2 linked regions of the Homo sapiens genome follow. The protein of the gene in region 1 purifies or fractionates together with the protein of each later gene. This does not show direct contact. Each region holds a gene or a part of one and is shown on either strand. Other genes may lie near its edges.

The links.
Region 2: the proteins of SLC44A2 (region 1) and UBAC2 purify together in Homo sapiens (affinity purification with mass spectrometry; one large-scale study listed by BioGRID and IntAct). This does not show direct contact.

Annotation. Positions count from the first base shown.
Region 1 is NC_000019.10:10,632,053-10,635,552, reverse strand, and holds part of SLC44A2 (choline transporter-like protein 2), read right to left. Parts: coding exon 3,397-3,500; intron 798-3,396; coding exon 666-797; intron 580-665; coding exon 480-579; intron 391-479; coding exon 298-390; intron 123-297; coding exon 38-122; intron 1-37.
Region 2 is NC_000013.11:99,238,854-99,242,353, reverse strand, and holds part of UBAC2 (ubiquitin-associated domain-containing protein 2 isoform 1 precursor), read right to left. Parts: intron 1-3,500. UniProt on the Homo sapiens protein: Restricts trafficking of FAF2 from the endoplasmic reticulum to lipid droplets.

The sequences.
Region 1 (3,500 bases):
GGGCAATACCTGCCCTCCCCACCCCGGGGACGCCCACCTCTGGGTTGCAGGTTTTCGCAGTAAATGGGCAGGGGCTGTCATCAAAGATCTTATAGACCGCTTCGTTGGAAGTGGACAGGAAGCTGGAGGTTCGTTAAGGAAGCAGAGGTCTAGGACTGAGGACCCCAGGGACTTTTGTGGGAAAGAATCCATTCTCCCACCAGTTTCCAGCCCTATCCCTAAGCTGCAGGTCACTTCTAGGCAAAGTTGGTCTTTAGCCATCCCTGGGGTCAGAGATCAGTGTCTGGGGGCAGATACACAGCAGTGCTGGCCCAGTAGGCGATGCAGAGGCACAGCAAGAAGAAGGTGACCAGTGGGTAGAGCAAGGAGCACATGACGTATCCCACAGCCCTAGGGAAGAGCAGAGACACAGGCGTCAGGGCAAAAGACACAACTCTAGGGACAGCTCCATCCTGGCCCCTGGCACCCTGGCCCCCCACCTGCTGGCTTCTTTGATGAGTGCAATCGCGATGAGAATTCTCTTCCGGAGAAAGATGAGCAGCAAGATGATAATGACTTCAAGGATACTCAGAATGATCACTGCAAAGGGCAAAGGCTGAGCCGGCTGGGCTCCCCACTCCCTCCAAGGCCTCATGTGGGGGCAGGAATGGGAGACTGTGACTCACTAAAGGCCAACCAGGTCTGCCGTAAGTGCAGGTACACCCGGAAATCCGTCTGAAAGCCGAGGTCCACCAAAGAGACATCAGAGCCGGCCTCACCACGCAGTCGGGAGTACTCCATGTAGCAGTGAAATATTCCTGCATGGGGGAACCACAAGCTCAGTCCAGCAGTGCCTCCTGCAACTTTGCAAAGCAGCTACAACTGCCCCCATTTAACAGAAGCAAACATCGAGGCTTCTGCCTCAGGGACTTTACACTTGCAGTTCCCACCGCCCGGTGCATTCTCTCCCCATGGCTGGATCCCACACATCCTTAGGTCTCTGCTCAAGTGTCACCTTCAGAAGAGAACTTCCAGAACCCTTTCCCCCTACTTGGAATCATAATCATATGCTGCCATGGTCTAAGTTCTCTCTCTTTTTTTTTTTTTTTGAGACGGAGTTTCACTCTTGTTGCCCAGGCTGGAGTTCAATGGCACAATCTCGGCTCACCGCAACCTCCACTTCACGGGTTCAAGCGATTCTCCTGCCTCAGCTTCCCGAGCAGCTGGGATTACAGGCATGCGCCACCATGCCCGGCTAATTTTGTATTTTTAATAGAGATGGGGTTGGCCGGGCGCGGTGGCTCACGCCTGTAATCCCAGCACTTTGGGAGGCCAAGACGGGTGGATCACGAGGTCAGGAGTTCGAGACCAGCCTGACCAACATGGTGAAACCCCGTGTCTACTAAAAATACAAAAAAAAAAAAAAAAAAAAAAAATTAGCTGGGCGTGGTGGTGGGCGCCAGTAATCTCAGCTACTCAGGAGACTGAGGTAGGAGAATTGCTTGAACCCGGGAGGCGGAGGTTGCAGTGAGCTGAGATCGCGCCACTGCACTCCAGCCTGGGCGACAGTGAGAGACTCTGTCTCAAAAAAAAAAAAAAATAGAGATGGGGTTTCTACATGTTGGTCAGGCTGGTCTCGAACTCCCAACCTCAGGTGATCCGCCCACCTCTGTCTCCCAAATTGCTGGGATTACAGGCGTGCGCCACCGCACCCAGCTAGAAACCACTATTAATATGAATATTTTACTATGAGTGTCCTCAAATTGGATTGCCAAGCATTTTTCTTCCAGGAAAGTTCAAGGAATAATCAAAATATGGGCCAGGCACAGTGGCTTGCGCCTGTAATCCCAACACTTAGGGAGGCCAAGGCGGGAGGACTGCTCAAGCTCAGGAGTTCAAGACTAGCCTGGGCCACATAGGGAGAACCTGTCTCTACAAAAATATTAAAAATTTAGCCAGGCATGATGGTGCTTGCCTGTGGTTTCAGCTACTTGGGAGGCCAAGACGGGAGGATCACTTGAGCCCAGGAGGTCAAGGCTGCAGTGAGCTGTGATTGTGCCACTGAACTCCAGCCTGGGTGACAGAGTGAGACTCTGTCTCAAAAAACAAATCAAGGCTGGGCGCGGTGGCTCACGTCTGTAATCCCAGCACTTTGGGAGGTCGAGGCAGGCAGATCACGAGGAAGTCGAGACCAGCCTGGCCAATATGGTAAAACCCCATCTCTACTAAAAATACAAAAAAAATTAGCCGGGCATGGTGGTGTGCGCCTGTAATCCCAGATACTCGGGAGGCGAGGTAGGAAAATTGCTTGAACCCGGGAGGCAGAGATTGCAGTGAGCCGAGACTGCACCACTGCACGCCAGCCTGGGTGACAAAGCAAGACTCCGTCTCAACAACAACAACAAAACAACAACTCAAAAACAACAAAAATCCAAAATATGAAGCACTGTTTTGTTGAGCACGATATTGTGCCTCTGGATTCCACAGGCCTGAACTAAACAGGCCCCTACCCATATTTTATCTGCTCATTACCTCCTTGTCATTTAGTTTGCCAACTAGAAATATGAATTACCCTCATTTTATAGAGAAATAAATTGAAGCAGTCCGGGCGCGGTGGCTCCTGCCTGTAATCCTAGCACTTTGGGAGGCTGAAGCGGGCAGATCTCCTGAGGCCAGGAGGTCGAGACCAGCCTGACCAACATGGAGAAACCCCATCTCTACTAAAAATACGAAATCAGCCGGGCATGGAGGTGCATGCCTGTAATCCCAGCTACTTGGGAGGCTGAGGCAGGAGAATAGCTTGGACCCAGGAGGCGGAGGTTGCAGTGAGCCAAGATCGCGCCATGGCACTCCAGCCTGGGTGACAAGAACAGAACTCCGTCTCAAAAAAAAAAAAGAAAGAAATTGAAGCACAGTTAGGTTGAGGCACTTGCCCAAAGAATTGGCAAAGCCAGGATTTGAACCTCTGCTATTCTGATACCAGAGTATGCATCCTTAACTACGGTGCTGAGACATTTTTTCTTTTTTTTTTTTTTTTGAGATGGAGTTTCGCTCTTGTTGCCCAGGCTGGAGTGCAATGGCGTGATTTCGGCTCACCACAACCTCCGCCTCCCAGGTTCAAGCGATTCTCCTGCCTCAGCCTCCTGAGTAGCTGGGATTACAGGCATGCACCTCCATGCCCGGCTGATTTTGTATTTTTAGTAGAGACGGGGTTTCTCCATGTTGGTCAGGCTGGTCTTGAACTCCTGACCTCGGGTGATCTGCCTGCCTCGGCCTCCCAAAGTGCTGGGATTACAGGCGTGAGCCACCACGCCCGGCCTGACTTTTTTTTGTTTTCCTGATGGGCCATTTCCACGGGAAAGGGCAGGGCAGTGTGCGGATTCAGGAAAGAGAAGCCACAGGGAGGGGGTGACGCACCGTAGCCCAGCACCAGAATCACCATGATGATCATCACCCAGACCATAATACCAGCCAGGAAGCGAAGCAGGATGATGAACAGGAGGCTCATCGCCATGGCAATG
Region 2 (3,500 bases), on another chromosome or scaffold:
CCGGGAGGGAGGTGGGGGGGTCAGCCCCCCGCCCGGCCAGCCGCCCCGTCCGGGAGGTGAGGGGCACCTCTGCCCGGCCACCACCCCGTCTGGGAGGTGTGCCCAGCAGCTCATTGAGAACGGGCCATGATGACAATGGCGGTTTTGTGGAATAGAAGGGGGGGAAAGGTGGGGAAAAGATTGAGAAATCGGATGGTTGCCGTCTCTGTGTAGAAAGAAGTAGACATGGGAGACTTTTCATTTTGTTCTGTACTAAGAAAAATTCTTCTGCCTTGGGATCCTGTTGATCTGTGACCTTACCCCCAACCCTGTGCTCTCTGAAACATGTGCTGTGTCCACTCAGGGTTAAATGGATTAAGGGCGGTGCAAGATGTGCTTTGTTAAACAGATGCTTGAAGGCAGCATGCTCCTTAAGAGTCATCACCACTCCCTAATCTCAAGTACCCAGGGACACAAACACTGCGGAAGGCCGCAGGGTCCTCTGCCTAGGAAAACCAGAGACCTTTGTTCACTTGTTTATCTGCTGACCTTCCCTCCACTATTGTCCTATGACCCTGCCAAATCCCCCTGTGCGAGAAACACCCAAGAATGATCAATAAAAAAAAAAAAAGTTGAAAAAAAAAAAAAGTTAAAATTTTAACTATTGAGTATACAATTCAGTGGTATTAAGCAAATTCACAATATTGTACACCCATCACCACTATCTATTTCCAGAACTCTTCATCATCCTAGACAGAAATGCCATGCTAACTTCCTGTTCCCTCTCCCCTTAGCCCCAGGAAACACTATTCTACTTAATGTCTCTATGAATTTGCTTATATTAGATACCTCATGTAAGTAAGATCATTTATTTGTCCTTTTGCATTTGCTCATTTCACTTTGCATAATATTTTCAAGGTTCATGGTAAAGCATGTATCAATCTCATTCTCATTTATAGTTGAATAATATTCTATGGTATGTATACACCACATTTTGTTTATCCATGTATCTGTTAATAGACATTTGGGTTTCTGCCTTTTTGCTATTGTGAATAATGCTGCTGCGAACATTGGTAATAGTAACTCTTTTCTTTTTTTTTTTTTTTTTTTGAGACAGGGTCTCACTCTGTTGCCCAGGCTGTAGTGCAGTGATGTGATCACATCTCACTGCAGGCTCAACCCTCTGAGACTGAATCAATACTCGCAGCTCAGCCTCCTGAGTAGCTGGGACTACAGGTGTGCACCACCACACCCGTCTAATTTTTGTATTTTTTGTAGAGATGGTGTTTTGCCATGTTGCCCAGGCTGGTCTTGAACTCCTGGGCTCAAGCAATCCATCCACAAACGTTGGCCTCCCAAGGTGCTGAAATGACAGGTGTGAGCCACCACACCCAGCCAACTGTCTTAAGGAAAAAGAGGCACAGAGAAACTAAAGTTTGTAAAGTCATACAACCTGTGCTCTTGCCAACAGAAATAAGAATACAAATGAGAAGTCTGAGCATATCAACTGTCAAAACCTGTCACATATGTCTCTACTCCAAGCAAGACACCAGGCAGAGTCTTTGTCATGACTGTACTGGCCACCAGAGTTCACCTCACCTGCCAGCCCAGCTGAACTGGGATGGCTGCCTCTAAGGCTGTGTTGAGGCCATAGCTGGGCTCAAGGAGAAACAGTACCGGAGTCACACTGAAACTTTAGGCAGCATATACCTCCATCAATATGATCAATGAGGCAGTACACGAGAGCACATAGGAAACTGCCAAGGACTTTACCAATGTCCGATGATGATGACTGTCATCTCCTCAGAACACCAGATTCAAAAACCATAAGAGGCAGCTCCAAGTCCTCTATCCCCACATTTAATATTACAATGAAAATACTCTACTCAGGGATAAGCTCTGAGAGCCACTAAGAAAATCTGAGGATTAAGGAAATGGAGAGTTTGTAATTACTAAGATATAACAAACTGCATTTCTAGAACCCCATTTTTTCAGTTAATGAAAATAAAGCTGCTAGCTACAGTTTTAAATAATTTATGTGTTGCAATCATACTCAAGGACACAAAACTATGAGAGCTGGTATAAGAATAAACCACTGCATATTATTATACAGGTGAATGTCCCCTAAAGACTGGTAACTGGCTACCGGCTTGCACTCAGCAAAGCACTGCTTCTGCAACTCAACCTAAAGAAAACTGACTGTACCTCTGCATTCACTGCCAAAATCTGGAGGTTCAGAACTTACAAAATAAAGCCCTTCATCAACTGAGCCCTCCTGGACTTCTCCAATCTAAGCCTGGGTTTGCCTCAAAGCACGCTTCCTGTACCACACTCCTAAGGGTCTGAAATTCATGTTACTTCCTGAAGTAAAATGCCCTTCCCTCTCTTCATTGCTAATTAACAGTCATCCCTTCTTTTTGGACCAAACTGAAGGCTCACACCCCTAAGACTCTCCAGAGGTAGGCCCCCAATACTGGTCCCTATTTCCTTGATCACCCCCCAAGGATGTCATGTACACCTGTGACCTACAGATCACGTTCTTATGTGTATGCGTGTGTTTAGATTTCCCAAGGCAGAACTGCAACTCCCATATCTCTCATGAATACACACTGAGAGCCTCTTAGGTGTTTTAAGTGTTAATCTGGATGTGGCTATTCCCATTCCTGGACAGAAGAGTGGTCTTCTTCCATCCAAGCAGGTCACCACCTTTAAAGCACAGATGCCCACAGAGTGGGCTTAGCCAAACGAACCAAATTAACTCCAGAAATTAGGAAGGTATCAACCCAAGGCCCGGGGGCCCTTACATTAGTGGTCCTCAAAGCCAGCCATACACTAGAATCCCCTAGGGGTTGTTTTTAAATGTACAGCAATGCCCAGGCGCCACCACCAGACTCTGTGACTCAGTTGTTCTGGGGCGAGATACTGTGTTTATATAAATCTAGGTATAAATTATACCTTCACGTAAGTATAGATATGGAGACAGATCTTTGAAGTTTTTTCAGGTGATTCTAATGTGTGTCCGGGGTTGAGAAGGACTGCATTATAGCAACTGAAATAATACAGAAGCTACACTATCTTCTGACAAATCAGTAATACGGATAAATAACTAAAAGACCTGCACAGTAAGTTGGTGAAGCCAATCTGAGCAATGGTATTAATTATATCACTATGAAGAAAAGGTGTCAGTGTTCAAGAAATGGATTATTATGCTTAAAATGGGCTAACCAAGTGCTTAGCAAAGAAAGGGTAGCAGTCATATACCAGAATTTGCATGAACACTCCAATTCATAGACAAGAACCCAGTACTAGCATTTTCAACAAGATCAGTCCAGAAACCTTGAAAAGCACTTCTGCTCTTTCCCACAGCAGAAACTCAAGAGAAATTTCTTACTTCGTTTAACCACCACTGTAAAAGTTATCAAAAATTCATAATCTGATACAGCTGACAGAGCCTAGCTCCTCTAATCAAATATTCAAATTGAGACAAGGTTTTGGCAAAGCTAAGTATGCCTACTGGGCAT